Linked DNA regions of Homo sapiens. The protein of the gene in region 1 interacts with the protein of each later gene in a biochemical or structural test. Each region holds a gene or a part of one and is shown in the gene's direction. Other genes may lie near its edges. The genes, in order: DCAF1, CEP78, CCP110, CUL4A, HLTF, MCM10 and LATS2.

Evidence for each region.
Region 2: the proteins of DCAF1 (region 1) and CEP78 form a complex in vitro, tested with the Homo sapiens proteins (one study listed by BioGRID).
Region 3: of the proteins of DCAF1 (region 1) and CCP110, one has a biochemical effect on the other in vitro, tested with the Homo sapiens proteins (one study listed by BioGRID).
Region 4: the proteins of DCAF1 (region 1) and CUL4A form a complex in vitro, tested with the Homo sapiens proteins (one study listed by BioGRID).
Region 5: of the proteins of DCAF1 (region 1) and HLTF, one has a biochemical effect on the other in vitro, tested with the Homo sapiens proteins (one study listed by BioGRID).
Region 6: of the proteins of DCAF1 (region 1) and MCM10, one has a biochemical effect on the other in vitro, tested with the Homo sapiens proteins (one study listed by BioGRID).
Region 7: of the proteins of DCAF1 (region 1) and LATS2, one has a biochemical effect on the other in vitro, tested with the Homo sapiens proteins (one study listed by BioGRID).

The regions. Positions count from the first base shown.
Region 1 is NC_000003.12:51,412,314-51,416,852, reverse strand, and holds part of DCAF1 (DDB1- and CUL4-associated factor 1), read left to right. Parts: coding exon 1-66; intron 67-1,995; coding exon 1,996-2,229; intron 2,230-2,809; coding exon 2,810-2,903; intron 2,904-3,466; coding exon 3,467-3,571; intron 3,572-3,786; coding exon 3,787-3,860; intron 3,861-4,372; coding exon 4,373-4,474; intron 4,475-4,539. UniProt on the Homo sapiens protein: Acts both as a substrate recognition component of E3 ubiquitin-protein ligase complexes and as an atypical serine/threonine-protein kinase, playing key roles in various processes such as cell cycle, telomerase regulation and histone modification.
Region 2 is NC_000009.12:78,276,896-78,280,992, forward strand, and holds the end of CEP78 (centrosomal protein of 78 kDa), read left to right. Parts: 3' UTR 1-2,795; downstream 2,796-4,097. UniProt on the Homo sapiens protein: Centriole wall protein that localizes to mature centrioles and regulates centriole and cilia biogenesis. Involved in centrosome duplication: required for efficient PLK4 centrosomal localization and PLK4-induced overduplication of centrioles.
Region 3 is NC_000016.10:19,529,986-19,534,524, forward strand, and holds part of CCP110 (centriolar coiled-coil protein of 110 kDa), read left to right. Parts: intron 1-2,430; coding exon 2,431-2,559; intron 2,560-4,539.
Region 4 is NC_000013.11:113,257,769-113,262,307, forward strand, and holds part of CUL4A (cullin-4A), read left to right. Parts: intron 1-2,838; coding exon 2,839-2,991; intron 2,992-4,539. UniProt on the Homo sapiens protein: Core component of multiple cullin-RING-based E3 ubiquitin-protein ligase complexes which mediate the ubiquitination of target proteins. As a scaffold protein may contribute to catalysis through positioning of the substrate and the ubiquitin-conjugating enzyme.
Region 5 is NC_000003.12:149,028,946-149,032,438, reverse strand, and holds the end of HLTF (helicase-like transcription factor), read left to right. Parts: intron 1-66; coding exon 67-219; 3' UTR 220-2,312; downstream 2,313-3,493. UniProt on the Homo sapiens protein: Has both helicase and E3 ubiquitin ligase activities. Possesses intrinsic ATP-dependent nucleosome-remodeling activity; This activity may be required for transcriptional activation or repression of specific target promoters.
Region 6 is NC_000010.11:13,164,050-13,168,588, forward strand, and holds part of MCM10 (protein MCM10 homolog), read left to right. Parts: intron 1-78; 5' UTR 79-153; coding exon 154-160; intron 161-4,539. UniProt on the Homo sapiens protein: Acts as a replication initiation factor that brings together the MCM2-7 helicase and the DNA polymerase alpha/primase complex in order to initiate DNA replication. Additionally, plays a role in preventing DNA damage during replication.
Region 7 is NC_000013.11:20,981,587-20,986,125, reverse strand, and holds part of LATS2 (serine/threonine-protein kinase LATS2), read left to right. Parts: intron 1-2,319; coding exon 2,320-2,902; intron 2,903-4,477; coding exon 4,478-4,539. UniProt on the Homo sapiens protein: Negative regulator of YAP1 in the Hippo signaling pathway that plays a pivotal role in organ size control and tumor suppression by restricting proliferation and promoting apoptosis.

The DNA.
Region 1 (4,539 bases):
CACTATGTTGAGTTCAGTAAGCACTCCCAGGATCGGGTCATCGGCACAAAAGGAGACATTGCCCACGTAAGTACTTAAGAACCACTGTTTTCAAGCTGATCATACCCATTTGTTCATACTGAAATCTTCTTGATAGAATGTGAGGACCTAAGTCCTTTGGGCAACTAGAAATCAGTGATATTCCTTCTAGTTAGAATCTAAAAGTATGATAATATAGTTCTGAGCTGTATGGGAAAAATGTATAAGGGCTAAATGTGACATTGAGAAAGATGTCATTAGCACCACAGATATTTTTGAATTCTTAGTAAGTTTTAGATTAGAAATGAAACCCCTGCCTTTATGGACCCTCATTGGGGAGACAATAAAGAAGCAAATATACGGTAAATTTAGGTGGTAAGTGTTTCAGAGAAAATGAAAGCAGGGTAAGAGGTAGGAAATGCTTGGTGGTGGTGTGGGGGACTTCTCTTTTATCTAGGGTAGACAGCATCACTGATGGGGTAATGTTTAAGCAGAGCCTTGAAGGAAACGCGAGATTCAGGAAGATACCTGGAGGAACAGCGTAAGGCACAGGAAATGGCAAGGGAAAAGCCCTTGCTTGGGAGGTGGGAGGAGAGCTGAGGTCAGTGAGGGGCCTGTATCTGGTAGCATCTTGTAGGTGGTAGTTAGGGCCTTTAGCTTTTTTTTTGAGTGAGATGAAGACACTGGTGGGTGAGTAGAGGATACATGAGTGGATGTAAAGTTCCTGAAGTGTGACTCTGGTTTTTGTGAGAGAAGCAAGAGCAGCCTTCCAGGTCAGAGGGTGTTGTACCACCTGACACATGAGAGGAGCTGTGGGTTTGGGCCTGGGTAGGCATGGTAGAGGCTATGAGAAATGGAGGACCTTGGCCCTGGGATTTTGGACACATGAAATTTGAGATTCTCTTAGACATTCAAGTAGAGAATGGGGATTGAATACAAAAGTTGGGAGCTGGCCAGACTTAGTGGCTTCTGCCTGTAATCCCAGCACTTTGGGAGGCTGAGGTGGGAGGCCAGGAGTTCGAGACCAGCCTGGGCAACATAGAGAGACTCCCCCCATCTCTACAAAAAATAAACAAAATTGGCTGAGCTTGGTGGGCTTGGGACCTATAGTCCCAGCTACTCAGGAAGCTGAGACGGGAGGGTTGCTTGAGCCCATGAGTTGGAGGCTGCTGTGAGCTATGATTATGTCACTGTACTCCAGCCTGAGTAACCAAGTGAGACCCTGTCTCTGAAAATAAAAACAACAAAAAATTGGGAGTTCAAGAGAGAGGTGTGGGTTGGGAAATATAAATATGGGACTTGTCCACATATTGACAGTATTTATTTATTTATTTATTTTTGAGACAGGGTCTTGTTCTGTCACCCAGGCTGCAGTGCAGTGGCACGATCACAGCTCACCACAGCCTTGACTGCCTGGACTCAAGCAATCCTCTTACCTCAGCCTCCTGAGTAGCTGGGACTACAGGCGAGCACCATCACACCTGGCTAATTTTTTTGTATTTTTGTAGAGACGGCATTTCCCCAACGTTGCCCAGGCTGGTCTCGAACTCCTGGGCTCAAGTGATCCACTTTTCTTGGTGTCCCAAAATGTTGGCATTGCAGGCATGAGTCACTGTCCCCAGCTGATAGTATTTACAGCCATGAACTTATATGAGATCATCAAGGGGACTAGAGAAGAGTTGTGGGTATAGAACCCTGGCATGTGTTTAGGAGTTGCCAAATGAGGAACTTGGGAAGGAAATCAAATATAATGGCCAGTAAGGCAGAATGGAACCCCGAGAAAAAGAGGTGCCTGGCCGGGTGCGGTGGCTCACGCCTGTAATCCCAGCACTTTGGGAGGCAGTATTCTGTGGTAATCATTGATCCATGTGGAGAATTTGTGTGTTAATTTTAGAAACTGCTTTGCACATTTTCTCTTTAATTTGTCAGTGGATGGATTGGTCTGATTTTTCTCTTCCCATCCCTTCTTCTCTAAAGATTTATGATATTCAGACTGGCAACAAGCTGTTGACTCTGTTTAACCCAGATCTTGCCAACAACTACAAGAGGAACTGTGCCACCTTTAATCCTACAGATGATCTTGTCTTAAATGATGGCGTCCTCTGGGATGTCCGCTCTGCACAGGCCATCCACAAGTTTGACAAGTTCAATATGAACATCAGTGGTGTTTTCCATCCAAATGGACTGGAGGTGATCATTAATACTGAGATTGTATCCTTTATACTCATGTCTTACCTTCCATTTGTTGTCTGGTTTGTGGTGCAGAAATAATTTGTTCTATCTTTATACCAATACCTGGTTAAAGTGTCCACACTGGTAATAATATGGTGCCTGTCCTTTGGTTTGAAATGTTAGTGAAATCTCCAAAGCACTGTTGCCAATGTTAGTAATTACTGACAACTTTCACTAGCATGTTTTCTATGTATTTGGTAAGAGTGACCAGTTTCCTACCTCCCAGTTCTCCAAGAATTGAATTAGCTTTTATCTGTCTTCAGAAGGATTTTACTTTTGCTCTGTAAAAAATCAGTTGCCACATAAGAGGAAAATGAAGTACTACTGTTGGGAGGAAAAGAGCTCATAAAGCATTCCTGTATATGAGGATACCCTAGGATATTTTCAGAGACATCATTCAATAATATGCATTCTACATGTATTTGTTTTACCTTGATCTCATTGACTTTTAAAGTATCAATACCTGGCAGGAGGAAAAAAAGTGATATTTTAGAATTTCCTCCCATGAGATTAGATAAGTTTTGTGTAAAATAGTTTTCCTTGACCATTCCCCTCCTAGTGGGACCTTCGAACTTTTCATCTTTTGCATACTGTTCCCGCTCTGGATCAGTGTCGCGTGGTGTTCAATCACACGGGAACAGTGATGTATGGAGGTAATAAACCTTATCCTTCATTATTCTCTTTCCTTTTGCTCTACCCCTTCACTTAATTTGATACTTCTTTTTGGAACCATCTCTCACTTGTGAATTGGAAAGCATTTGAGAGTTGTAACATAAAAGATAAAAAATTGATAGTATGAATGGTGACAAAAGATATGAAAATAATGTTGGTTTAGGGTGAAAGGCAGCTTACTTTGAAGATAACAAGGAAATCTTGTATGGAAAGAAATTTCATGCAGTATTTTCCAGTGTATCATTATGAACTTAAGAGCTTTTGCATTTGTCCTCTTGTGTTGTTATAAGCCTTGTAAGTACAGTAACACTTCTTGGAGGTAGATGAGAGGCTGAGGATATTATTTGTCACAATAGGTGGGATATGCAAGGAAGATGCTCTGAGAGGAGCTAACTAGATGCAGAGTAGATTTCTGTACAAGGGAATTTGTATGTAAACCTATATGCAAGTAGATTGTTTTGATTGGCCATTAACATTTTCTGCACTTGTGAAGAGGGGATGTTTGTGATTCCTAATAGTGTTTCCTCCCCCACTCCCCCTCAAGCTATGTTGCAGGCAGATGATGAAGATGACTTAATGGAAGAGAGGATGAAAAGCCCCTTTGGGTCATCCTTCCGAACATTTAATGCAACTGACTACAAACCTATAGGTAAGCAGAAAGGGACAGACATTGAACATTTTGTCGTGTTTTGGTGTTCCTTATTTAAGATCCTTCATTTTCTGGAGGCCTGTAATTTTTTATTGAAAAACAGAGAAGTTATGGAAATACTTTTGAGCAATCATCCTGAATTCCTTTAGAGGAAAAGCAGGTTTTAGGGTCACAGCAATAGTCCAATCCCAATCTTCTCACATTCTATTTTCCAGCAACCATTGATGTGAAACGGAACATCTTTGACCTGTGTACAGACACCAAAGACTGCTATCTTGCTGTCATTGAGGTAAAGGGAGCTTGCAGAGGCCCTGCTCTTTTGTTCTGATGTTTAGGATAATTTTCAAGTTGTACTACAGACATTTTGTCTGATATAAGATGTAAAGTCAATACATTCCTGAAGGTAGATTATTGATAACCTATTCATTTGATGGGGCTTGGGAGATGTACAGTACAAAGAGAAATAGTAAGAAAATCCCAATATAAGACAGCTTAGAGGATCCTGTCTCCTTTTTTTCTGGACTCACACTGTCATCCCTTTCTCAGAGGAATCTGGATCTCTCACCAGAGCAAGACTGGTTTGTTCCAAGGGTGATGGTTCCTCACCAAGTCTTTTCATTCTGTTTTTCTTCCCCTTTATGTGTCCTAGGTATAACATTTTCATAGTCAGCTCAAGAATTTCGGGTATCAGAAGCTTTAATAATTACAGGGTCAAGGTCATGGGCACCAGTCAGGGCTGAGGCGTGGATGTGGACCTTCTGAAAAGTAACTGCTCCTTATGGACTGGATGTTCTATTTCAGAATCAAGGCAGCATGGATGCCCTGAACATGGACACAGTATGCAGGCTGTATGAAGTGGGCAGGCAGCGTCTGGCAGAGGATGAGGATGAAGAGGAGGACCAGGTCAGTGGTCTTTGAGATTTCTTTCTGCTGAACAGTGCTTAATAGAGGTTATGCTCTGCTTTTTG
Region 2 (4,097 bases), on another chromosome or scaffold:
CCTGATTATAACATTAATCTGAAAGTCATCAGGCATAAAGCAATTTTGATTACATCTCAAAACAATCCATGGAGTTAGGGTAAATGTGCTGTTCACACAGGAATAATCACAGGTATAGAACCGAGAACCTAGGAACAGAGCAATGTATATATATATGTATTTAAAAAATGGCATCACAAGTCAGTAGAGAAGGGTTTGAACTATTCAGTAAATGATGTTGAGGTTATTTACTACTTTTTCTTATTTCATATCATGGATGAAAAAAATCAAGATGAATTAAACATGGAAATTAAAAATAACTAGAAGAAAATACTGGAAAAAAATTGTAATAAATGTGTAAGAAAGGCATTCCCAACCAAGACACAAAACCCAGTAGCCATGAAAAAAAAGATAGATTTGACTACATTTTTAAAAAGTAAAACCTTTCACTTTTTACAAAACTTTGATAAAATTAGATTTCATAAATAAAGGAGTGGGAAAATACATGTAATAGAACAGAAGATTTAAGATAATATAAAGAGCACCTACAAACAACAAAAATTGGACAAAGGCTATAAAAATATTTTATAAATAAGAAATACAGACTATAAACATAAACTTTCAACCTCGTAAGCAATCAGGAAAATTAAAGTTAAAATGAGATACTATTTTTCAATACATTGAAATGGCAGATTATTAAAGATTGGTGATAGTGCTGGAGATAATGTGAGGAAAGGAGTATTCTCAGTCATTGTAGAAATTGATACAGCTTTTGGATGGACAGTTTGACAGTGTGTATCAACATGTGAAATGTCTCCAGCCTTTGATCTAATGACTAATTTTAGGCATCCAGCCTGAAGAAATATTCACACAAGTGCCCAAAGAGTCAGATACAAGACTGTGTGAAGTGTTTTTTGAGATAATAAAAAACTAGAAACAGCATAAATGTACAGAAATGCAGAAATTGTTGAATTAGTACATACCAATTTCTGACATATAACACTCTGCAGCAGATAAAGACAATAGCTCTCTAGTGTGGACATGAAAATATTTCTAAGACATTGACAGGACGAAGAAGTTGCACAGTAACCACGCACTCCTGTTTACATTTGTATAGTTAAAACTTGTTTACCTATACGTAGCATATATGCGTGTGTGCACCCTAGAAAAGAGTCTGTGATAACACATATCAAGCTATTGACAGCGGTTTTGTCTGCTGAAGGAGGAAAAAAGGGGGGCTTCTCACATTTTACTCCATTTAATTCTAGGTTGTTTGGTTTAAAAAAAAAGTTTTTATGTACAACAGACAATTTTTAAAATTCCTTTTCATCATAGAAAATGAAAATGTGTACTCTGTTATCCTTTACGCTCTGTCCATTTTTTTCTTCAAAAATGTGTCTGACCTATTATCAATGTGAATGAAAATGAGCTTTGCTACATAACCTCTTTTCAGAGCTTTGTATTCCTGAAGTGTTGGAGTCGCCTACATGGCATAGTCAAATGTTTTTAACTTAACCACAACCCACAGTAAAAATGAAGCTTTCTGCAAAGTTAAAAGTAGTAGTCCTGGCCCCACCTTCCTTGTGTGCACGTATAATTAATGGAAAATTGCATCAAACAACTCTGATTGTACTTCTAGTGACTAATTCATGTTCTGTTCTATTCCTTGCCTTTAAAGAAAATTATGTTGGCAACTCACGAAGTATGTTTCACAATCCACTAATGGGTAATGTCCTACTGTTTGGAAACACTGGCTAGAGTGTTTCAAACATCTGCTCTGTTTACCCCTGACAAAACTGCTACTCGTGGGGCAATGCAAGTCTTTCCCACATTTGTTTTATTTTATGGCTAAAAGTCATTTCTGCATTTGCAAATTACTTCCAAAGCCTACCTTCCTTGAGCTCTTTAACTCTCTATAGTCTTCTGGTAATTTTCTTTAGATTTCCCTTTTCAGAACCCTTTTGTGACACTGAAAACCTGAGTTTTCAAACTGATACATCTACCTGAGAATTTTCACATATAATTTGGTCAAAAAGTTAAAAAATAAGAAGACTTTGCCCTGTGACTGAGGTGCTCAGAAGGTATGGCTGGCTGCTCACAAAGGCACATAGTGAGTGATAGGGGCTGAAAGGGCTCAGAGAATGCCCGAGTTCTCTTAGTACAGTTTGTACATTTTAAACCACTGTGAACTGAAAAAAAAAAAAAAGGCAACCTTGGTAGTTTAGAAATAGATAAGGACCCACTTATAGATTAAATAATAATTAGCTTGTTCCAGAGAGACCAGTGAAGATTAGTTGGTTTATTTAATGTGTTAGAAAGATGGTCCTCAAAGTCCTTGAAATGTGAAGGCGGCTTTTATCTCCTTAAGAAAACAAGAAAACTCCACAAAATCTTGAAAGCTAGATAATCCTAGCTTAAATGATAAAATTTGAGTAGAGTTTGAAAACACTAAAATCAGTTTGCCAAATAACCAGCTCTAATTTCTTTATACCAAAGCCAAACTTCACCTAAATCTTACCTAAGAATTGAGTTCCTTATTGTAACCAGATAGGAGACACTTTTGTATATTATTCCAAATATTGCAAACCTACAAGGAGTAAAAGGTGTTATTATTTTAAAGAAGAAGGAATGAGGCCTGAGAGGTATTGATTCACTTGGTTGAGGGCTTCAAGTAGCACAAGGCAAAAGCAGGATTTGTTGACTTCCAAACCTGTTTTCTTCCTTCACCATGTGGCCTTTGCATCTTTCCCACACAAATATTATTCCACAAATATTTATTGTCACCAACTATAATAAAAGAACAGAACTATGTATCAGAGAGGCTGCAGGAGTGAGTTCTACCCAGGTCCACACTGCTGCTCACAGTCAAGTAAACTGCAGGCCGTTTTTGTGATGCCTGGCTGGAACGGCAAGTGAGGCATGGTATTCATTGGCTGGGCGCGGTGGCTCACGCCTGTAATCCCAGCACTTTGGGAGGCCGAGGCGGGCAGATCACGAGGTCCGGAGATTGAGACCATCCTGGCTAACACGGCGAAAACCCGTCTCTGCTAAAAATACAAAAAAATTAGCCGGGCGTGGTGGCGGGCGCCTGTAATCCCAGCTACTCGGGAGGCTGAGGCAGGAGAATGGCGTGAACCCGGGAGGCAGAGCTTGCAGTGAGCCGAGATCATGCCACTGCACTCCAGCCTGGGTGACAGCGAGACTCTGTCTCAAAAAAAAAAAAAAAATGGTATTCATTTTCTCTTCTTTAGGGACACCTAGGCTTATATCACTTTCTACAGTTGCTCTCTTTTCCAATTCCAATTTAGTTGGTATAACAATTACAAGTTTAAATTGGCTAATGCCTCAAAATGTTTTGTTATGGCTTTCCATTCCATTCATTTTTGTTTTTGAAAAATTAAATATTTAAAAATATTAAATAACTTTTCGCTGAAATCAGTCTTTTTTTTTTTTTTTTTTGAGACAGTCTTGCTCTGTGGCCAGGCTGGAGTGCAGTGGCACGATCCTGGCTCACTGCAGCCTCCACCTCCTGGATTCAAGCGATTCTCCTGCCTCAGCCTCCTGAGTAGCTGGGACTACAGGTGCACATCACCACACCCAGCTAATTTTTGTATTTTTAGTAGAGATGGGGTTTCACCATGTTGGCCAGACTGGTCTCAATCTCTTGACCTTGTGATCTGCCTGCCTCAGACTCCCAGAGTGCTGGGATTACAGGCATGAGCCACTGTGCCCAGCCGGAAATCAGTTGTCTTATATGTGAAGTCCATAGTATTTAAGGCCTAGTGGTTGAATATAATAGACAAGCTACAGTGCGGTGTTTTCTCTCACTAATAAGAGTAGATTTGGGCCGGGCGCGGTGGCTCAAGCCTGTAATCCCAGCACTTTGGGAGGCCGAGGGGGACAGATCATGAGGTCAGGACATTGAGACCATCCTGGCTAACATGGTGAAACCCCGTCTCTACTAAAAATAGAAAAAATTAGCCAGCCGTGGTGGCGGGCACCACCATCAATTGCCTGTGATTTTGCCATGCTTTTCAAGTGATTGCTTTCTTAAAGAGGACCATGATGAAACTTTCCACAAATCTGAGTTAAATCATCTTCACAGTTTACAAAGGTTA
Region 3 (4,539 bases), on another chromosome or scaffold:
CCAGAGTTTGAGACCAGTCAGGGCAACGTGGTGAAATCTCATCCCTACAAAAAATACAAAAAAGAGCTGGGTGTGGTGGCGCGCACCAGGAGTCTCAGCTGCTCTAGAGGCTGAGGTGGGAGGATCACCTGAGCCCGGGAGGCTGAGGCTGCGGTGAACCCTGATCATGCCACTGCACTCCAACCTGGGTGACAGAGTGAGATACTGTCTTTAAAAAAATAACAAAACTATGATACTGAATTTTTAAAGAGACCAGAGCTATTGTCTTGTAGAATTCCTTAGATCTTGGATTTGTCCCATTGTTTCCTAATAGTGTTATTTAACTTGTTTCTCTAGTCCCTGTAGTTCCTATGAACTGGAAGTGAAGTTTGATAAACAGGTTAAAGATTTTTGGAATTCTTTGAAGATAGGGCTGGGCGGGGTGGCTCATGCCTGTAATCCCAGCACTTTGGGAGGCTGAGACCAGCCTGGCCAACATGACGAAACCCCGTCTCTACTAAAAATACAAAAATTAGCTGGGCGTGGTGGTGGATGCCTGTAATCCCAGCTATGTGGGAGGCTGAGGCAGGAGGATCCCTTGAACCCAGGAGGCGAAGGTTGCAGTGAGCCAAGATCCACTGAACCCAGTAGGCAAAGGTAGTGAGCCGAGATCGAGCCACTGCACAACAGCCTGGGCAACAGAGTGAGACCCTCTCTCAAAAAAAAAAAATGTAATCCCAGCACTTTGGGAGCCCGAGATGGGTGTATCACTTGAGGTCAGGAGTTCGAGACCAGCCTGGCCAACATGGCGAAACCCCTTGTCTACTAAAAATATAAAAATTAGCTAGGCATGATGGTGGGTGCCTGTAATCCCAGCTGTGCGTTAGGCCGAGGCAGGAGAATCGCTTGAACCCAGGAGGGATCGGGATCGCACCACTGTACTCCAACCTGAGACTCCATCTCAAAAAAAAAAGGAATTCTTTGGAGATGATGCCCTGCACTTCATACTAAATTAAATCAGAAGTTACATAATGTTTAGTTGCCCTCTATTAGTGATGTTTAGTTTGAACACTTGCTTACAGTAGTGACTGCCAGATGGCTCTTTAAAGTACACATTTTCTCCTTTTGATTAGCAAGTAAATTGTATAATCATTCTTTGGTACCATGCAATTAGGAAAAAGTTTTAAAACAACATATTTATCAGCTATTTGATAACACATTGCTTGATTTAATGTGGACCAAAATGTCTGAGGCTTGTTGTGTAGGGTCTATGACTCCGTCTGTTATTTATTTATAAGCAAAATGTGATGTTTATGGACCTAATCCACACTTTTATGTTGTATTTGATAGGTGAATATTGCAACTTTTGAAATAATTTTTTAATGATATATTTTCTATTTGTGTAAGTCTACGATAAGTCTTGACTGTTAACAGTGATTTAATTTCCCAGGACTTAATAATTAAGATTGAAATCCATTATAAAGAGATACAATGCTTAGAAGCCTTCCATTTTTTAGGTACATTATATTTTTATCAGAAGGTAGAGTGAGGTGAAAGAAAAGATGTATTCTGCTTTTGTAGGCAAATAATATATTATCTGTTTATTTTATCATTAAACCTTTGGACATTTTTTGAGGCAGCAAAGAGTTAAATTGTGCACTGGTTAGAAAATTAAAAGTTGTAGAATCCAGTTGATCCAGTGAAATAAGATACTGAAGATGGGCCAGGCGCGGTGGCTCGCGCCTGTAATCCCAGCACTTTGGGAGGCCGAGGTGGGCAGATCACAAAGTCAGGAGTTCGAGACCAGCCTGACCAACATGGTGAAACCCCATCTCTACTAAAAATACAAAAATTAGCTGGGCGTGGTGGCACGCGCCTGTAAGCCCATCTACTCCGGAGGCTGAGGCAGGAGAATCGCTTGAACCCAGGAGGCGGAGGTTGCAGTGAGCCGAGATCGCACCACTGCACTCCAGCCTAGGTGACAGAGCAAGACTCCATCTCAAAAAAAAAAAAAAAAGGATACTGAATGTGAAGTAATATTCAAGTCAATATTCAAGTGAAGTAATAAAAAACTCAGCAGTGGCCAAAAGGGCCTTAATTTTATTTCTGTCATTTTAGAACATTTGATTAGTGAACAAACTTTTTTCTTTTTAACCTTTTAACTGAAAATAATTTACACATAGCAAAATGCACAAATCTTAAGTGTTAAAGTTCCATGAGTTTTGATATATGGCATACACATGTATAACTCACACCCACACAGGATTTTCTTCACCATGGAAAGATCTCTAATGCCCCATCCCACTCAGTACCCAGACCATTGTTCTGATTTCTTTCACTATACATTAGTTTTGCCTGTTGCACATGTTTTTAATCTTTCTGATTCACAACTTCCCGATTTTATGATATTTTTATCGTGGGAAATAATTACATTTTTATGATGTTTTGCAGCTTAACATTGAGAAAAGAAAGGAAATGCAACAAGAAAAGCAGAAAGCACTTGATGTAGAAGCAAGAAAGCAGGTTAACAGGAAGAAAGCTTTACTGACTCGTGTCCAGGAGATTCTTGACAATGTTCAGGTGTGTGATTTTAGCTGTTTCAGTTATAATAAAGAAATCATAAGATAAGCGTTGATGATAATTTTTCTGAAATATATTTGCACTTAACTAATTACTAATGTACTTTACTGTTACGTTTGAGAAGCTTCATAATTTGTGATTTTCCATTTCAGTTACTCCAAAGAGAATGTACTTGCTTGTTAGTAATGCCCAGTACTTGAATCAGAGGATATTTACACAATAGAACCATACACTGAATATAATTGCTTATTGTTTGCATCTTATGACTCTAAAAACATTGAATTCTCAGTGACAAAATGACAGAATTGGGTATTATTGTTTACCCCAAACTAATTAGACTATTGACTAAATGACCTTATTCTCATTCTTTGCTTAAGTAAATAACTGCCTCCAATTTTTTTTTGGTGAAAACTCTTAGATACACAAAATGCAGTTTAGATAACATTGAATTGTTTAGATGCATCCTATGTCTAAAAACTATTTAAACAACACATCTACACCTTGTGCAGTTATTTTTAGATTTGTATAAACAATTTGTTCTGACATGTGGATCATTTTGTACTAAAAAGAAAAACAAATGAATTAGATTGAACGAATAATTTCTACAACATATAGCAGTGTTCTGCTGGTAACATCTTTTTGTTTTTTCATAATCTTAGGAGTTTGTGGTTTGTCTGTTTAATTCGTATCGATGACACGTGTATAATGAACCTTAAGGGTTCATTTCTCTGTTGGTAGTGTAAACTGAAGAAAATGACTGAGGCAAGTCTCAATCGATTTAGAGGTTTGTTTTGCCAAGGTTGAGGATGTGCCAAGGAAAAAGAGACAAAAGTTACAGTAGAATCTGTGGCTTATGCTTTTCCAGAAGAGGTTTTGAGGACTTCAGTGTATAAAGGGGAGAGAACAGCAGGAGGGGAAAGAGGAAAGAAAAAAAAAGGAGGGTAGGTAATGAGATAAGCGATCACATTTTTGTGAGGCTTTGATTAGCACTCACTGAATCCACAAGTCGCATGAGAAAGGTGGGGGTAGAGGAACAGTCAGTTATGCATTCATCTCAAGCTCAATAAATCTGCATTTTACATAGGATAAAGTAAGCAGAGTAGAGGAAGAAGTCAAATATACATTTGTCTCCAAAGGGATGATTTCTAGTCATCTTTGGTCTTTGTCCGTATCTTGTCAGAGTGAAATTCAGCAGAACTCTGGGTTGGTGTAAAGATTTTGGGGCCTACGAGGAATTTCCTTGTGAGCAATTTGCAAGAGAGTCTACCTGGGTAGATAGGTGGCCTTCTATTTTGCAGCTATCTGTTTAGGAATAAAAGGAAGGCAGTTTTTGTGTGACTCAGTTCCTAAGCTTTACTTTTTCCTTTGACATGTGATTTTCCATTTCAGTTACTCGAAATCCCTATGTAATGAGTCTTCAGAATCTGATGAAAAAGTCAAAGGAATATATAGAAAGAGAACAATCTAGACGCAGGCTGAGAGGTAGTATTAAGAGAATTGTTAATGAGAGTCATAGTGACTCTCATGTGACATAGTTGAGTTTGGGGTCCTGAGATATTATTTCCCTTTCACAGTAGTATATAGTGTGTGGGTAGTAGATTTCATTTTGCAGATTATAATTACTGTCCATATTAAGTTTAAAAAATGTATTGAGTAGCACTAATTTAACAATAAGAGGTAGGTTTTTTACTTACTACGTATTTCCTGTGATTGAAATGAAAATGGCATATCATTCTTGGTCCATTGAGGGAAGATAAAATATACTACTAATAAAATTGTTAAAAGAGCATGTATAATGTTGAACTGTAATGAATTAATTATTCAGATAGGAAAATTTTATATAATACAATTAGATTTCTGCTTCACCTGTAAAACCTAAGATTCTATGATAGATTTTTTTCTTGTTGTTATTTAACTTGTCTAACTAAAGGCTCATTTTAGTGACGTATAAACAACATAGCTTCCGAATATCACAAATGT
Region 4 (4,539 bases), on another chromosome or scaffold:
ACATTTATACTATGTTATTTTTCTAGAAGTTTTTACATTTAAATCTTTCTTTTCATGTTGCAGAAATTATTTTAGTATCTGAAAACAGTCTAACTGCCCCCATCCTTTCCAAAACCAAATTTAAAATATCATCCTTGAACAAGTTATTTGAATTATCACCTTATTATGTATCAAATTCATATAGGTCAGTTTCTCAATTCTCTTCTATAAATTCTGTGTCTATTTCATAGCCAGCCATTTTTTTTGTTTTGTTTTGTTTTGTTTTTTGAGACAGTGTCGCCCAGGCTGGAGTGCAGTGGTGTGATCATAGCTCACTGCAGCCTCAACCTCTTGGGCTCAAGCGATCCTCCCACCTCAGCCCCAGGCATATGCCACCACGCCCAGCTAAATTTTTGTATTTTTTGTAGAGATGAGGCCTTGCCATGTTACCCAGGCTGGTCTTGAACTCCTGGGCTCAAGCAGTCTTCCTACCTTGACCCCCCAAAGTGCTGGGATTACAGCCGTGAGCCACCGTGCCCGGCACCAGGTTCTTTTAATTAATGTAGCTATTCCTATAACTTTATTCTTCCAATGAACTTGACAATAATTGTATCACGCCTTTGCTCCCCCAAATAAGAACATTGACATTTTTAATCCATATTGCATTAATTTACAGAGCTTTTATCTTTATCATATTAAATCTTGTGATTCATACATATGTGTATATATGTAAATACATACAAATCTTTTTCTCAGAGCTTTCTAGTTTTCTTCTGTAAGTCTTGCATATTTCTTGCTAGTCATAAATTTTCATTCATTCAACAAATACTTATTGAGCATCTGTGGTGGCCCAGGTCCTCTGTGAAGCACTGAGAATTCATCCATTAACAATAAAGAATAAGTCCTTGTTTCTAGGAGTGTTCAGTCTTTTCCAGCAGAGAGGTAGCAGAGGATCACACACATTGACTAACTTGTAAGAGTGGAGGAAAATGTTAGGATAGAGAAGTGCAGGAGAGTCTAATTAAATACTGTCGTCAGCCAACGCTTTCCTGAAGAAGTGACTAGCTTTGCTCAGGAACTGAAAGAAGGCCTCTGGCTGCAGCATCGTTGCCAAAAGGGGAAGCTGAGCCAGACAGGCCTGATCAGGGAGCCACAGCTGGACCCTCTGAAGATGGCTCAGATCCATGAAGCATTTGGAAAACCACTAGAGTTTTAAGCAAGACAGGCTAATGAAATGCTGATATCTTATAAAGGGGACCTTTTTTCTTTACATTTCTGACGGTTTTTATCAGAATGTATGTATTAATGCTATTTGTCTTTGTATATTTATTTTATTTCCAGCCACTTTACAAAACTCTTTAGCTTTGAAAGTTTTTCTGTTGATTTTCTTGGATTTTCCAGCTCATCTACAAATAATGATCGTTTTGTCTGCACCTTTTCAATATACCTCTTTAGTCTGTTCCTGTATTGCATAGTTAGAACCTCTAAAGTAATGTTTTTAAGGAATAGCAGTGCAGCTGAGCTTCCTAATTTTATCTCTAGTTCAGAGGATGTTAACTTTTTGGGGGTCATGGATCCTGTTGAAAATGTGATGAAAGCTTGGAGTCTCTCCCATCCTGAAGCATACTTGCCTCATATGTATGCACAGACCTTCCCCCAGCCCTCATTTCAACTGCAGATCCCCATCAGGTTCCTGTTGGACTAAGGTTAAGTTGTCTCTAGTATTTGCTGTTTGTTTCTGATAACCATGTTTTATCATGTTCAGATGCTTTTTTATTCATCCTTGTATGCTAATGTTTGTTTTAAATCAAAAAATCAATTTTATCATGCCTTTTCAGCATCTATCAAGATGGTCATGTAATCTAACCTTTCAACTGCTACAGTGCTCTCACTTATATTCACAGATTTCCTAATGTTGATCAACACTTAACATTTCTGGAATATATCCTGATGGTCATTATGTTTTGTTTACTGTGCTGCTAGTTTTAATCTACATCACACATAGAGTTGTTGCAGCTTTCTTATAAGGAAAATAACTTTTAAAAATATTTTTTAAGTTTTGGTTTTGGAGTTTTGCTATTCTGGGAAGGTACCTTTTACTACAACAAGTAAACATGCATAATAAAGTAGGATTCATCCAATGTCTGACCTTTCTTTGCATCAAAAGAACATTTCCGGCCAGGCACGGTGGCTCACGCCTGTAATCCCAGCACTTTGGGAGGCCGAGCCAGGTGGATCACGAGGTCAGGAGATCGAGACCAGCCTGGCTAACATGGTGAAACCCTGTCTCTACTAAAAATACAAAAATGAGCCGGGCATGGTGGGGGGGCACCGTAGTCCCAGCTACTTGAGAGGCTGAGACAGGAGAATGGCGTGAACCCGGGGGGCGGAGCTTGTAGTGAGCCGAGATCGCGCCACTGCACTCCAGCCTGGGTGACAGAGTGAGACTCCGTCTCAAAAAAAAAAAAAAAACCATTTCCCATCAAATTCGGTAACATCAGGTCATTAATATTGAAATATAGGCCAGGTGTGGTAGCTCACACCTGTAATCCCAGCACTTTGGGAGGCCAAGGTGGGCGGATCATCTGAGGTCAGGAGTTCAAAACCAGCCTGGCCAACATAGTGAAACCCTGCCTGTACAAAAATACAAAAAGTAGCCGGGCATGACAGCAGGTGCCTGTGATCCCAGCTACTCGGGAGGCTGAGGCAAGAGAATCGCTTGATCCTGGGAGGCGGAGGTTGCAGTGAGCCGAGATCACACCATTGCACTCTAGCCCAGGCAACTGAGTGAGACTCCATCGCAAAAAATAAAAAGAAAATACAGTTTTACACTTAACTTTTTTTTTCTTTTTTATACAGGTTGAGGAACAGGTTAGCACCACTGAGAGAGTGTTTCAGGATAGACAATATCAGATTGATGCTGCTATCGTCAGAATAATGAAGATGAGAAAGACTCTTGGTCATAATCTTCTAGTTTCTGAATTATATAATCAGCTGAAATTTCCAGTAAAGGTAAATGTAACATTAGCATAATTAAATTTGTAGTATTTGCTAAACAATTGACAAAGCATGTTTAATTCTATGTTCAGTCATATCATTTGACCTGCATTATTCATGGTGCTTTGTGTATACACTGAATGTAGAAAAACTGGCAAATGTGAAGCTCTTTATTCCAGGTGTTGCTCATTGCCACTGCAGAAATGATAGAGCCCTAAAACTCTCCTTCCCAGGGATGGTGCGCGCTTGTTCATATTTTCAGGAAGGGAAGAGGTAGATGGGACATGGAAAGCTGAACACTTTTCTCATAGTAGTAGCGGTCAAGGTTACATCACAAGATTTTAAGGAAATGATAACAATAACTAACTTACTCAGCGTTTACAGCCTACACCGCGTTTTCCACCACGGTAATAGTCTACTGTTGCTGTTGCTTATGAAAGTCAGCCCAGGCCTGTCAACCCGCGTTGTTTTCAGAACTGAGATTTACTGTCCTGCCACGTGTGGGATGCAGGATAAGCCGGGAAAGTATTATGAAACGTTTTTTACATGTATTTATCAACCCAGGAAATACTGAACTCTGATGACGCCTGGCCTCTCAGGGACAGGACCGGCCACACGTGCTTTGGAGGGAAAGTCCCCAGATTCCATGTTGTGCAGTTTGAGCCTCCCATTCCATCAAGGGAATAAAGTTGAGATGCACTAAATAGTCGAACACTTAAGAGTCTGGTGGAAGTGCCACTGTCCATCAGCCCACATTTGCCCCCTTCCCTGCAGAGGTGAGGTGCCGTCCTCAGGGCCCTGGGAAGCTCCAAAAGCACCATCAGGTTCACTGCCCCTTCCTCCCACCAGCTGGAGCAAGTCTCCTGTTGCCACTGCAAACAATCAGGCCCAGCGCGAAGCAGAGGTGAGCAAGAGTGGAGTGTGGCAGACCAGGGCACCTGCTCTGCTCTCGGGTAGAGAGTGGCAGACCAGGGCGCCCACTCTGCTCTCAGGGGTAGAGTGTGGCAGACCAGGGCGCCCGCTCTGCTCTCGGGTAGTTGGGTTTTTTTTTTCTTTGAGATGGAGTCTTGCTGTCCCCCAGGATGGAGTGCAGTGGCACGATCTCGGCTCACTGTAACCTCTGCCTCTCGGGTTCAAGCAGTTCTCCTGCCTCAGCCTCCTGAGTAGCTGGGCTTACAGGCACGCGCCACCACACCCAGCTAATTTTTGTATTTTTAGTAGAGACAGGGTTTTACCGTGTGGTCAGGCTGGTCTCAAACTCCTGACCTCGTGATCCGCCTGCCTCAACCTCCCAAAGTGCTGGGATTACAGGCGTGAGCCACCGCGCCCAGCCTCAGCCACATCTTGTAAAATGTGTGGCTTATCACTGAATAGAAGGTGAAGTTTGTTTGGAAAATAGAGGGTCTCCCTTGTATAGGGAGAGCCTTGCACGTAAGTGCTCACACAGATTTTCTTCCTAATACAGCAGAGCTGGAGTGGCTGTTCCCTCTGGGCAGAGACAGGCTGTGGCTGTGGATTCGTCTCCTCAGTCACCTACTCTTAGTGCAGGAACACTGGGGATTG
Region 5 (3,493 bases), about 98 Mb from region 1:
TTTTTTAATAAAGATTTTAAATACTATGCCTTAAAAACTACTTAACTTTTTTTTTTCTTTTTAAAGTTCATTGTAAAGGACTCTGTTGAAGAAAATATGCTGAAAATACAAAACAAAAAGAGAGAACTTGCAGCAGGAGCCTTTGGAACTAAAAAACCAAATGCTGACGAAATGAAACAAGCCAAAATTAATGAAATCAGAACATTAATTGACTTATAATTTGTGGGATTTTAGTAAGGTCAGTTTGATTGGATACTTAAGTTTTAGAAATGAGAAAAATACAGAGTTTTAGAAATGAGATCTAGAGAACACGTCTTCTAAAAGGGGCATATTTTATATTAGTGAAGAGGTATTACTGACACAATTTCTTCTATATATGAACCTATTTTTAATGAAACTTCAAATAGCAATAAGTTCCGTTATATACTGTGGCCTGAAATAATTTGAGAAAAAAGGTTACTTTGTTATTCAGCTTTTCATAATATCTATGCTGAGTATTTTCACGTATCTTCCAAGTACTCAGCTTTTTCGTATTTCAAATAAGGTCAGACCTTTTATACTTTTGACCAAATAGTTATTTTCTATGTTGGACACTTAGTTATTTACCAAAGCCTCCGATTTGTGATGCAGTGTTTGTAGTCCTTGTAAACAATATATACAGACTATACAAGAATTAATTTTATTGGGCTTTCAAAAACCATATTTGCATTCCAGAACCAAATCTTAAATGAGACCAAAGTCCAGGTTAGCACAGGTTTTTATTTTTCCTACAGCTACATTGAGATATAGTTCACATAAATGACTTGGAGTTTTATGTTCATGAAAAAATTAGGGATTATGTTAAGAGTACTATTTTTTCCATTTTAGTTAAGTAGTACTACACTCATTGTTTAAATGTAACTTGCTGTGTCTGAGGTATAAATATAGTCTGTGGGAGTGAGAGGCAAACCAGTCCTACCCAATTTGATTTGAATATTTTAAATTATGGAACTGCTAAATAGATATTTCTATAAATAGATAATTTTTATTTATGTAGCTTTTTTTGGAAGTAACTTTATAAATTTTTATAATTCAGAAGACTACTATATGTGAGAGGCGTGATATCTGGATGGAAGTTGGGCTGGATGATCTCCAAAGTCGTTTCAACTCTTAAAGACATCTTAATCCTGAATGTAAACAATTGTTATGTGTTTAGAATCAGAATTTGATTTTGAACTTGAGTAATTCATCCTTACAGCTATCTGTAGAATTAGTCATCTTTTTTCTTTTCTTTTTTTTTTACTTTTTTGTTAATAAGCAAACTTATTTGCTGCAGAATTTGGGTTGACTCCTGAGCATATTTAAAACAAAGAAGCTAGAAATTTAGCAGTCAGATTAGGTAGGTGGTTTTATTTCAAAGGGAAACTTTAATCCAAAGAAAGATTAATTACTCTAACAAACAAGAGAAGCTTCATGTTTGATGATACAGATTTAAGAATACCTGAGACTTAAGAGTGTTGGAAGTCATTTGATAGAAAGATGAGATCGGAGACAATGTTGTGTTATAGGGCACACATTGAAGGTATATGCCAAATCTCTCACCAGATAAGTCCTTTTCTCCCTGTGCCGTTTTCTTGCTCAAAGGGAACAGTGAATTAGCCAGCTAGAATCTTCCTGGTCCCTTTTTGAGGCAGTAGCAGGTAAGGAAAGGGCTGATTTTCATCAAAACCAAGACCTTTCTGCAGGGATGATAGTGGAATAATAATGTGGGATTAGCCCGCTAGCATTAGGAGCAGTTGGGAAGTTACCTGGTAGATCAAGCATTACACACAAAAAATCAAGTTGATCAGAGTATGGGTTCTCCATATAGCAATACTTCAGTGAGATTAAGTATAAACAGTTTTTGGCAAAAAACAACACAGTCTACTCTTTCTGCTTACAAAGACAAAGCCTTACAAACTCACTATGAAGGTAAAGGGAGGACAGCTTGCTTCTTTGCCCAGACATTTACAAAGTTGTTTTTAAAACACACTCATAAGTAAGTTTGGCAAGTTGTTTAAAAAATGTCTCTTTGTTTTGTACAGTTCTGTTAGATGTTGTTATATTTTAAAAGTTTAATTTAAAAAATTTAATTTGTCCTTCCTAAGAAGGATAAATATATAAAAAAGCCACTGGAATGAAAACTTCCTATATGCTATGCTGTTGTCTTATTATTATATAGAAAAATAACTTTAGAAAAATATTGAAGACATTGTATTACCACTTGTGATTCAAACAATTTTGTGGTTAAAACTGGATTTTAAATTTAAAAATCAATAAAAATTTCAAATGTTTATTACCTTCCTCGGTGCCATAATTTTGACTTTATCTTCAAATAAAATCCTTCATTAATTGTGACATTTCTATGCAAGTGTTACATTTTTTTGAGAGTACATGAAGATTACTGTAACAGAATAATGTCCTCATATCCTAACTAACTTTATTTTGCTCAATTTAGCTGGTTGAAATTCTTGTTCAGAAATCAAGAGTGCTTATTTAAAATGCCTTGATCTAAAAACATTGGTCCCAATTAATTTCTTCATCTGGAAGAAAAAAAGGAGTTGTGATAATACCTATATATACACAGATAGCACTCTTAATCAATCATTGTACATTTTGTCCTTAAAATTACAGCTCTAGAATTGGAAATACAAACTAACCCTATGTAGTTTGTTACCAGTGAGTACTAATGATCTTCGGCAGTGTGTGCTTTGTTTTGGGGAATGGCAAAGACATTGCTGTATTTTTTTCTTGTTTTATTTATACTACTTGTCAAGGTTTATGCATTAGCATTTGGATGAGATTCATTAAAAATATAAGGGCACATTTGATGTTTGGCTCTTAACAAAAACTCAAATGTTTAACCTCAAGTTTTTAACACATTAACTTCAAAATATCTGCAAAATGTGTTATACAGCAGGACAATATGGGTATAAGGAGAATTAAGGTAAACAAACATTTACTTTATGCATAAACCATAGCTCCATCCACCATGGAGCTAATCTCCAAAGGCATGGATTTGACCTCTGTTGTGGGCAAGTTTGTCTTACAACCAAAGGTCATACCAGCCACTGCAAGGGGATAAGTATATATGGATCACCTCTGCAAATATAAATCTTGTAATTTGAATTACTGTTGCCTTTTTATACATTTTACTAAGTAACCCTTAGTATTCTGGACTCCCTAGAAAAGATTTTCCAATATTTGTATAGCTTTACATGGAAAAGTTAGTTAATACTTCACCTTAAGACATAGATCATAGAAGGAAAAGAATGTTTAGTTCAGTGATTTTCTAGCCAAATAACTTGACAGCATTATATGCTATGTCTTATGGTAAGCTTGTCATTCTTTCTGATTCCAAAAGTTAATAATAGCCTTCACTACTTATTTGAAATTTAAAAATTTGCTGGGTGCAGTGGCTCACGCCTGTAATCCCAGCACTTTGGGAGGCCAAGGCCGGTGGATCACGAGGTCA
Region 6 (4,539 bases), on another chromosome or scaffold:
ATTCTGGGTTTGTTGGATGTGTGTTGTGAGAGAAAGAGAAGAATTGAAAGTGACATTTCTAATATTGCTTTCACACAGCCAAGATTCTACATTGCTCATCTGGGCATCTGAGCCTCCTTCGAAGTTTCCTGTCACAACTGTCCTCTTGACAGCATGGATGGTAAGACCTGGCAGTTTTCTGTTACTCTGTTTCAAGGAAAACTAACCTTTTGTCCATGGACTTGTTATTTATTCTACCTGTAAAATGGTGAAAATGCTCCCCAGCCCTCAGGTATTGTCTTAGTGGTTCTGAAGCAATCTCACATCTCACAGAGGTCACTGAATGTTACTTGCTTTTATCAGGGGAGATTTCTTCTGGCAACAGAGATTGTCTTTCATAATTACAATAGCTGGTAGGTGTACAGTGGGCCAGGCACTGCTCCAAGATCCTTGTGGAAATTAACTGATTCAGTCCTCAGGCAAACGTATTTTATAGGCAGAAAAACAGGGATGTTTAGTAACTTGTCACAGTTCAAGCTGGCATAGCAGGGCTTTGAACCAGGCAGTCTGACTTCAGAGTTTACATTTGATAATGAAATCTGCTGAAGCGATATTAGTCTAGCTCTGACTTAAGTTTTTATTAATATCATCCTTTCTAATTTTGTTCATTTTGCAAGGATGTGTACAAAATGTTTACCTAGAAAAGAGATGTTGCACTAATTAGCGATCACCTAAAATGATTGTGCTGGGCTGGACGCAGTGGCTCACGCCTGTGATCTCAACACTTTGGGAGGCCGGGGTGGGAGGATTGCTTGAGCCCAAGAGTTCAAGACCAGCCTGGGCAATAGAGTGAGACCTCATTTCTATTTTTAAAAAATTAAAATGATTGTGCTGGTTGTGAAGAGATCTAGTTGCATAATTGAACTCATAATCTGAAACTGGGTTTTTTTAAAAAATTCAAACATATTACACTTTGCCCTTTAAAACAAAACTTGAAATTCCTCACACTGTGATGCACAGTGGACCCCCGTTGTCCCTGAGAGATGTGTTTCCACACTCCCAGCAGATGCCTGAAACCCAGGATGGTACCAAACCCTAGGCATGCTGTGTTTTTTCCTGTACATACATACGTGTGATAAAGTATAATTTATGAATTAGGCACAGTGAGAGATGAACAACAATAATAAAATGGAACAATTATGACAATATACTGTAATAAAAGTTATGTGAATGTGGTCTCTCTCTAAAGTATCTATTGCACTCTCAAAATATCCATTGTACTGTCCTCAACCACAGTGACCATGGAAAATCAAAACCACAGAAAATAAACCCTCAGATAAGGGGTTATTCCTTATGTGAAACTCATTGCCTGATGCTATCATGGTAGTTTCCTGTTTCTTAAAATTGGCAAATTGCCTACAGGGCAGGTTATATAATACAAAGCATCACTTTTTGCTATCAGATTGACATGAAAATAAGAGGTGAATGGATACCTGTTCTCTAAGAAATCATAGTATCTATCTGGAAACAGTATAGGTCAAGAAAGAAGAAATCATAATGTTTAGGCTGGGTGCGGTGGCTCATGCCTGTAATCCCAGCACTTTGGGAGGCCAAGGTGGGTGGATCACCTGAGGTCAGGAGTTCGAGGCCAGCCCGGCTAACATAGTGAAACCCCATTTCTACTAAAACTACAAAAATTAACCTGGTGTGGTGGCATGTGACTGTAATCCCAGCTACTCAGGAGGCTGAGGCTGGAGGATCACTTGAATCTGGGAGGCAGAGGTTGCATTGCATCGAGATCCCACTACTGCACCTCCAGCCTGGGTGACAGAGCAAGACTCCATCTGAAAAAAAAAAAAAAAAAGAGGAAAAAGAAATCATAATATTTAGTAAGAAAATCTCATTTGATTGGCATGGGTTCACAATTTGGCCGGTGTAGAGGAAATCGGAGACTGTATGGTACTTGGGATATACTGTTGAACAATGTTCCTGCTTATATTTTAGTGGAGGGAGAAAGATAACAAAACAATAAACGGGTAGTTAGTAGATGGGAGACACTGCTATGTCTTTGTATGCTGACAGGAGTGCTTCAGAGGAGAGGGAGAAACTGGGGATTCAGGAGCCAGAGAGGTGGTAATTGTAGAATGAAGTCTTTGAGAAGCTGAGAAGTGGGACCCAATGTAAGAATGTAAGTGGAAGAATTGGCTGTGAATAGCACTAGATACTTAGTCCCAGGAGGGAAAGCAGAGAAGATACGTTCAGAGTTGGGAGTGAAGGATGAGGAAGTCTGATTACATCTATTTTTTCTGTAAAATATAAGCCAAGGGCTGGGCGCTGTGGCTCACGCCTGTAATCCCAGCACGTTGAAAGGCCAAGGCAGGTGGATCACCTGAGGTCAGGAGTTCGAGACCAGCCTGACCAACATGGAGAAACCCCATCTCTACTGAAAATACAAAATTAGCTGGGCGTGGTGGCACATGCCTGTAATCCCAGCTACTCGGGAGGCTGAGGCAGGAGAATCACTTGAACCTGGGAGGTGAAGGTTGCAGTGAGCCGAGATCGTGCCATTGCACTCCAGCCTGGGCAACAAGAGCAAAACTCTGTCTCAAAAAAAAAAAAAAATACATACATACATATATATATATATATATATATATATATCATCAGCTAAGAGTAAAGAGTGGGGAGTGGGCATAGGAGGTTTGAGGAGAGACAGTGTGAAGTGGTCAGAGCCTGGGAAAGCGAATGAATTGAGGAAGTGTGGGAATCTTTAAGCAGTGCTGAATGCTTGTTTGTTATGGGTGTGCAAAAATTTAAAGTTAGACTGAGGCAGGGTCTTGTTGATCATACCTGTAGTCCCAGCACTTTAGGAAGCCAAGGCAGGAGCATCGCTTGAGGCCAGGAGTTCAAGACGAGACTGGGCAACATGGCAAGACCCCATTTCTACAAAAAAATATTTAATAAGCTGGGCATGGTGGTGTGCACCTCTAGTCCCTGCTGCTTGGGAGGCTAAGGCAAGAGGATCGCTTGAGCCCAGGAGTTTGAGGCTATAGTGAGCTAAGATTGCAACACTGCACTCCAGCCTGTGTGACCCTGTCTTGAAAAATAAATAAATAAATAAACAAACAAAAAAGACCAGTCAGCATGGTAGCGAGTCTTTCTCCAGGACCATTCACCAGCCAGGGAGCTGAGTCTTTAGAAGGCAGTGAGTGATGATGGTGTTGAACATGGATCCACAGGGAGGGCATTAGGGGCAGGGGGTGATGGACAGGAAACACATTGTAGGTAGGCTGATGGGTTAGACATGTGGATGAAGCTGAAGAGCTGCTGGATGTGAATACTAGAGTGAGCGGGCTGAAAGGATGGGAGGTTGGATCACAGAGGGACGTTCAGAGGTCAGTTGTGCTTTGCTGTGATGAGTTGGAGTTACTATGGGAGTGGGTAGCTAAGATGGGGAGTGGATGAGAAACCCAGCGACCAAGATGTTGGCTGGATCATCCTTGCGGAGGTTGAAGTGCCCCAGGAGGGTGATAACAGTAGAGATGGAGGGGAGGACCGGGGGGGGCATGCATGATACACATATGATGATCAGCACATGACAGTGCCATGAGGGGTTCTTGATGCCAGCGTCTGGTGTCTTGAACTTCAGAGAGCTGTGATCTGGAAAAAGACTGAATCATTCCAAAGTGACAGTGATAAAGAAGACATCAGGAACCTGAAGTTGATCAACAAGTATTTGTTGCATGCCTAATACGTGCCGAACACTATTCTAGACATTGCCATGTGAGGTGTGAACAATTAAATGCTTTCCATTCAAGAGGCTTCCAGGGGTAGCCAGATTTCTGTTGTAAGAGCCACTGGGGATCCGAGAAACGTGCTGATAGTAGATTTCACATCCCAGGGGTTTGAGAACAAAGAGGCTGGGAGATTGAGTCAGCGTAATACAGAGAAGACATGATTTTTGGTGGTGACTGAGGTAAACGGGGTTGTGAGGCACCATGGGATTAGCCCTCGTTCTCTTGTGAAGGGTTCAAAGTGAATAGTATGGGGTCCCCAGGCAGCATTTTCCACCTGTGGCCCCCAGTGGTGTGAGCCAGAGCCTCTTCCCGGGGTGTGCCCTCTTTGGCAGACGGGAACAAGAGATGGTGGAGGCCTCTTTGCTTCCTTGCAGGCATGTGACATTCTCAGAGCACAGGGGGCTGCCTGGCCTCTTCTCTCTTGCACTGTGCAGCCTTGGAGTCTTTGTGGACTAAGCAACTCAAGCTAATCCTTATACAACCTCTGACTGAGCATTAGGCCCCATCATCAGATTCTAGGCCTGAAGTTTGGCTACTGGCTTTTTCCTTCTGGTAAGGGAGTGTAGAGTGGTGGAAAGGATATTGGTTTGCTGATCTAGAGATTCCTTATTAACCCAGCTCCTGAACTGATCTGTTTCTCCATGTGATCCTGAACAAGCCCCTCACCCTCTCATACTCTAGCCCCTGAATTTCAGACAAGGAGAGTAGGTCAGATATCCTTAATATTTTTCCATTGAATACCTCTGATTTTATAAACAAATAG
Region 7 (4,539 bases), on another chromosome or scaffold:
TTCCATGCACCTCTTAGCCATTTGTGTATCTTCTTTTGACAAGTGTCTATTCAGGTCATTAGCTCACTTTTTTTTCTTTTTGAGACAGAGTTTCGCTCTTGTTGCCCAGGCTGGAGTGCAATGGCACGATCTCAGCTCACCACAACCTCCGCCTCCCGGGTTCAAGTGATTCTCCTGCCTCAGCCTACCGAGCAGCTGGGATTACAGGCATGCACCACCACGCCCAGCTAGTTTTATGTTTTTGTAGAGACAGGGTTTCACCATGTTGTTCAGGCTGGTCTCAAACTTCCGACCTCAGATGATCCACCTGTCTCAGCCTCCCAGGGTGCTGGGATTACAGGTGTGAGCCACCGCGCCTGGCCTTATTTTATTTATTTATTTTTTAATTAAGACGGAGTCTTGCTCTATTGCCCAGGCTGGAGTGCAGTGGTGAAATCTCGGCTCACTGCAACCTCTGCCTTCTGGATTCAAGCTATTCTCCTGCCTCAGCCTCCTGAGAGCTGGGACTACAGGTGTGCGACACCATGCTCAGCTAATTTTTGTATGTTTAGTAGAGACGGGGTTTCACCATGTTAGTCAGGCTGGTCTCAAACTCCTGACCTCAAGTAATCCGCCTGCCTCAGCCTCCCAAAGTGCTGGGATTACAGGCGTGAGCCACCATATCTGGCCTTTTGGCTTACTTTTTAATGGGATTATTTGATATTTTTTTTGCTGTTGAGTTGAGTTCCTTGTATATTCTGAATAATAGTCTTTTGTCAGATGAATAGTTTGTGAATATTTTCTCCTGTTCAACACAGGTATCCTCTTTACTCTGTTGTTTCCTTTGCTCTGCAGAAGCTTTTTAGCTTAATATAGTCCCATTTGTCTACTTTGGGGTTTTTTTGCCTGTGCTTTTGAGATTTTAGCCATAAAAATCTTTGCTCAAACCAATGTCCTGGAGTATATTTTCATAGCCTCTGGTCTTATTTCTAGGTCTTTAATCTGTTTTAAGTTGACATTCCTATATGGTGAGAGATTGGGGTCTAGTTTCATTCTTCTGCATATGGATATCTAGTTTTCCCAGCATGTCTCTTTTTCAGTGTACATTCTTGGCACCGTTGTCAAAAATCAGGTGGCTGTAAATACGTGGACTTATTTCTGGGTTCTCTATTCTGTTCCATTGGTCTATGTGTCTGTTTTTATACCAATACCATGCAGTTTCAGTTACTCTAGGCTTGTAACATATTTTGAAGTCAGGTAACAATTTTGTTCTTTTTGCCTAGGATTGCTTTGAGTATTTGGGCTCCCTGTGAATTTTAGTATTGTTTTTTCTAGTAATGTGAAAAATATCATTGGTATTTTGATAGGGATTGCATTTAATTGGTAGATTGATTTGGGTAGTATGGTCATTTTAACAATATTAAATCTTTCTGTCGGTGAACATGGGATCTCTTTTCATTTGTTTGTGTCCTCTTTAGTTTCTTTCTTCAGTGTTTTGTAGTTTTCTTTGTAGAGCTCTTTCACTTTTTGGTTAAATTTACTCCTAGATTTTTTTTATAGCTGTTGTAAATGGCATTCATTATTGGTGTACAGAAATCCAGATATCCATATGCAGAAGAATGAAACTAGACCCTATCTCTCACCATATACAAGTCTATCTAATGTATGCTACTGATTTTTGTATGCTGATTGTTGACTTTTCTTCCTGCTTTCCCATTTTCCCTGAGTTACTGAAAGATTAGATGGCTCTTGGAGTTCTAGGAATGCTGTGGTCCCCTTTTCCACAGATTTGTGTTAATAGAAGTTTCCCTTAGTTTTTAGAGCCAAAAGTATCCTAGAGAAAGAACTTTCTTTTTTATCTTAACTTTTCATTCCATATTCATGTCTATATATGGATATAAAAAAACAAAACTGGCCGGGCACAGTGGCTCAAGCCTGTAATCCCTGCACTTTGGGAGGCCAAGGTGGGCAGATCACCTGAGGTCAGGAGTTCAAGACCAGCCTGGCCAACATGATGAAACGCTGTTTCTACTAAAAATACAAAAATTAGCCAGGTGTCATGGTGGCGGGCACATGTAGTCCCAGCTACTCGGGAGGCTGAGACAGCAGAATCGCTGGAACCCAGGAGGCGGAGGCTGCAGTGAGCTGAGATTGTGCCACTGCACTCCAGCCTAGGCGACAGAGCGAGACTCTGTAGTATATGAGACCCATTCTTCTCTGTTCTCCTTTCTGTAAAATGAGCTAGGTTCCTCTCAGTTCCAGGGCATCCCCATCCCAGTCATTTGTTATCATGGGACTTCTCTAATGTGATTCTTCCTCCTTCCTTTTCCTTCTACACAGGCTGGACTCTGTGAAGCTGAGCAGGAGCAGATGCGGAAGATCCTCTACCAGAAAGAGTCTAATTACAACAGGTTAAAGAGGGCCAAGATGGACAAGTCTATGTTTGTCAAGATCAAAACCCTGGGGATCGGTGCCTTTGGAGAAGTGTGCCTTGCTTGTAAGGTGGACACTCACGCCCTGTACGCCATGAAGACCCTAAGGAAAAAGGATGTCCTGAACCGGAATCAGGTGGCCCACGTCAAGGCCGAGAGGGACATCCTGGCCGAGGCAGACAATGAGTGGGTGGTCAAACTCTACTACTCCTTCCAAGACAAAGACAGCCTGTACTTTGTGATGGACTACATCCCTGGTGGGGACATGATGAGCCTGCTGATCCGGATGGAGGTCTTCCCTGAGCACCTGGCCCGGTTCTACATCGCAGAGCTGACTTTGGCCATTGAGAGTGTCCACAAGATGGGCTTCATCCACCGAGACATCAAGCCTGATAACATTTTGATAGATCTGGATGGTCACATTAAACTCACAGATTTCGGCCTCTGCACTGGGTTCAGGTGGACTCACAATTCCAAATATTACCAGAAAGGTATTGTCTGAAGTGTGCCACATGCACTTTCTATGTGTAGATGTCACTAACCCCATTGCAAGCAACTAAATTTCCCATCCTAGTGGCTCCTAATCATTTTGAAATTTTTATCTGTCACTCCATTATTTTATAAATTGGTGTGACATCCTTCCCTTCCAAAAGGAATAGTGTGATATGCATTTTTTTTTAAGGTAGTGGATTTCAGGTTTACTTTTTTTTTTTTTTTTTTTTGAGACAGAGTTTCGCTCTTGTTGCCCAGGCTGGAGTGCAATGGCGTGATCTCGGCTCACTGCAACCTCTGCCTCCTGGGTTCAAGTGATTCTCCTGCCTCCAGCCTCCCGAGTAGCCGGGATTACAGTCACGCACCACCACCTCTGGCTAATTTTGTATTTTTAGTAGAGACGGGGTTTCTCCGTGTTGGTCAGGCTGGTCTCAAACTCCCAACCTCAGGTGATCCGCCTGCCTCCGCCTCCCAAAGTGCTGGGATTACAGGTGTGAGCCACCGTGCCTGGCCTACTATATTTTTAAGACAGTAGGCTACAAGGTGTCACGGGGCCTTTGTGGGGAACCATCACCTGCCTCATTAAAGCAAGCCTTAAAAAATAAAAGATTTGGCTGGGCATGGTGGCTCACGCCTGTAATCCTAGCACTTTGAAAGCCCAAGGTGGGCGGATCACCTGGGGTCAGGAGTTCGAGACCAGCCTGACCAACGTGGAGAAACCCCGTCTCTACTAAAAATAACAAAATTAGCCGGGCGTGGTGATGCATGCCAGTAATCCCAGCTACTGGGAGGCTGAGGCATGAGAATCGCTTGAACCCGGGAAGCAGAGGTTGCGGTGAGCTGAGATCGCGCCATTGCGCCCCAGCCTGGGCAACAAGAGCGAAACTCTGTCTCAAATAAAATAAAATAAATAAAAGAGTCACAGCCTCCCAAGGAGCCCTCTCTTATAGCCAACCTGCATCTATGTAGTGTATCATTGAACTCCATTTCCTATAGTTCTGCCATTTGGAAAAGCCAAAAACAGCTGATTATTATCTTCTTTATGGCTGAGATTCTTGAAGTAGTTATTTTAATATCATCACTTAGTCTTTTTTCTCTAACTCAAAACTAACTCTAAATCATTTAATTCATTCTCATTTTCTGGCATTGAAGTAACCTTTGTTCATGTTGTTTAAATCCTCCTAAGTTTTCCATGCTCATCTTAAAACATGTGTCAGGCAGTTGTTACCTTTTGATTATGGCCTAAGCGCTAGGAGTGCTGTCCCCGCAGTTCTTCCAGCCTCTCCTGCCTGCAGTGCCTTCCTGCCAGCTCAGCACGGTGCATGGTGTCCTGTGATTCTTCACCGTCATTTCTACCTTGGTGCTAGCGCCAACCTCACCACGTGTGTCTCCAAACTAGGAACAGCAGGCTGCCCCTATGGAGCAGCTCAGCGGGGATTCTCTGTCCTGATATGTCAGGAGCTGATTGGAATGACTTTGCTGTTTTAAGCTGTGGATCTGTTGAGTTATTGAAGAGTGAAAATTCACTTTATATTTTGTTCTTTTCTTTCACTATCCCTGATTCCTGGGTGAAGGGAGCCATGTCAGACAGGACAGCATGGAGCCCAGCGACCTCTGGGATGATGTGTCTAACTGT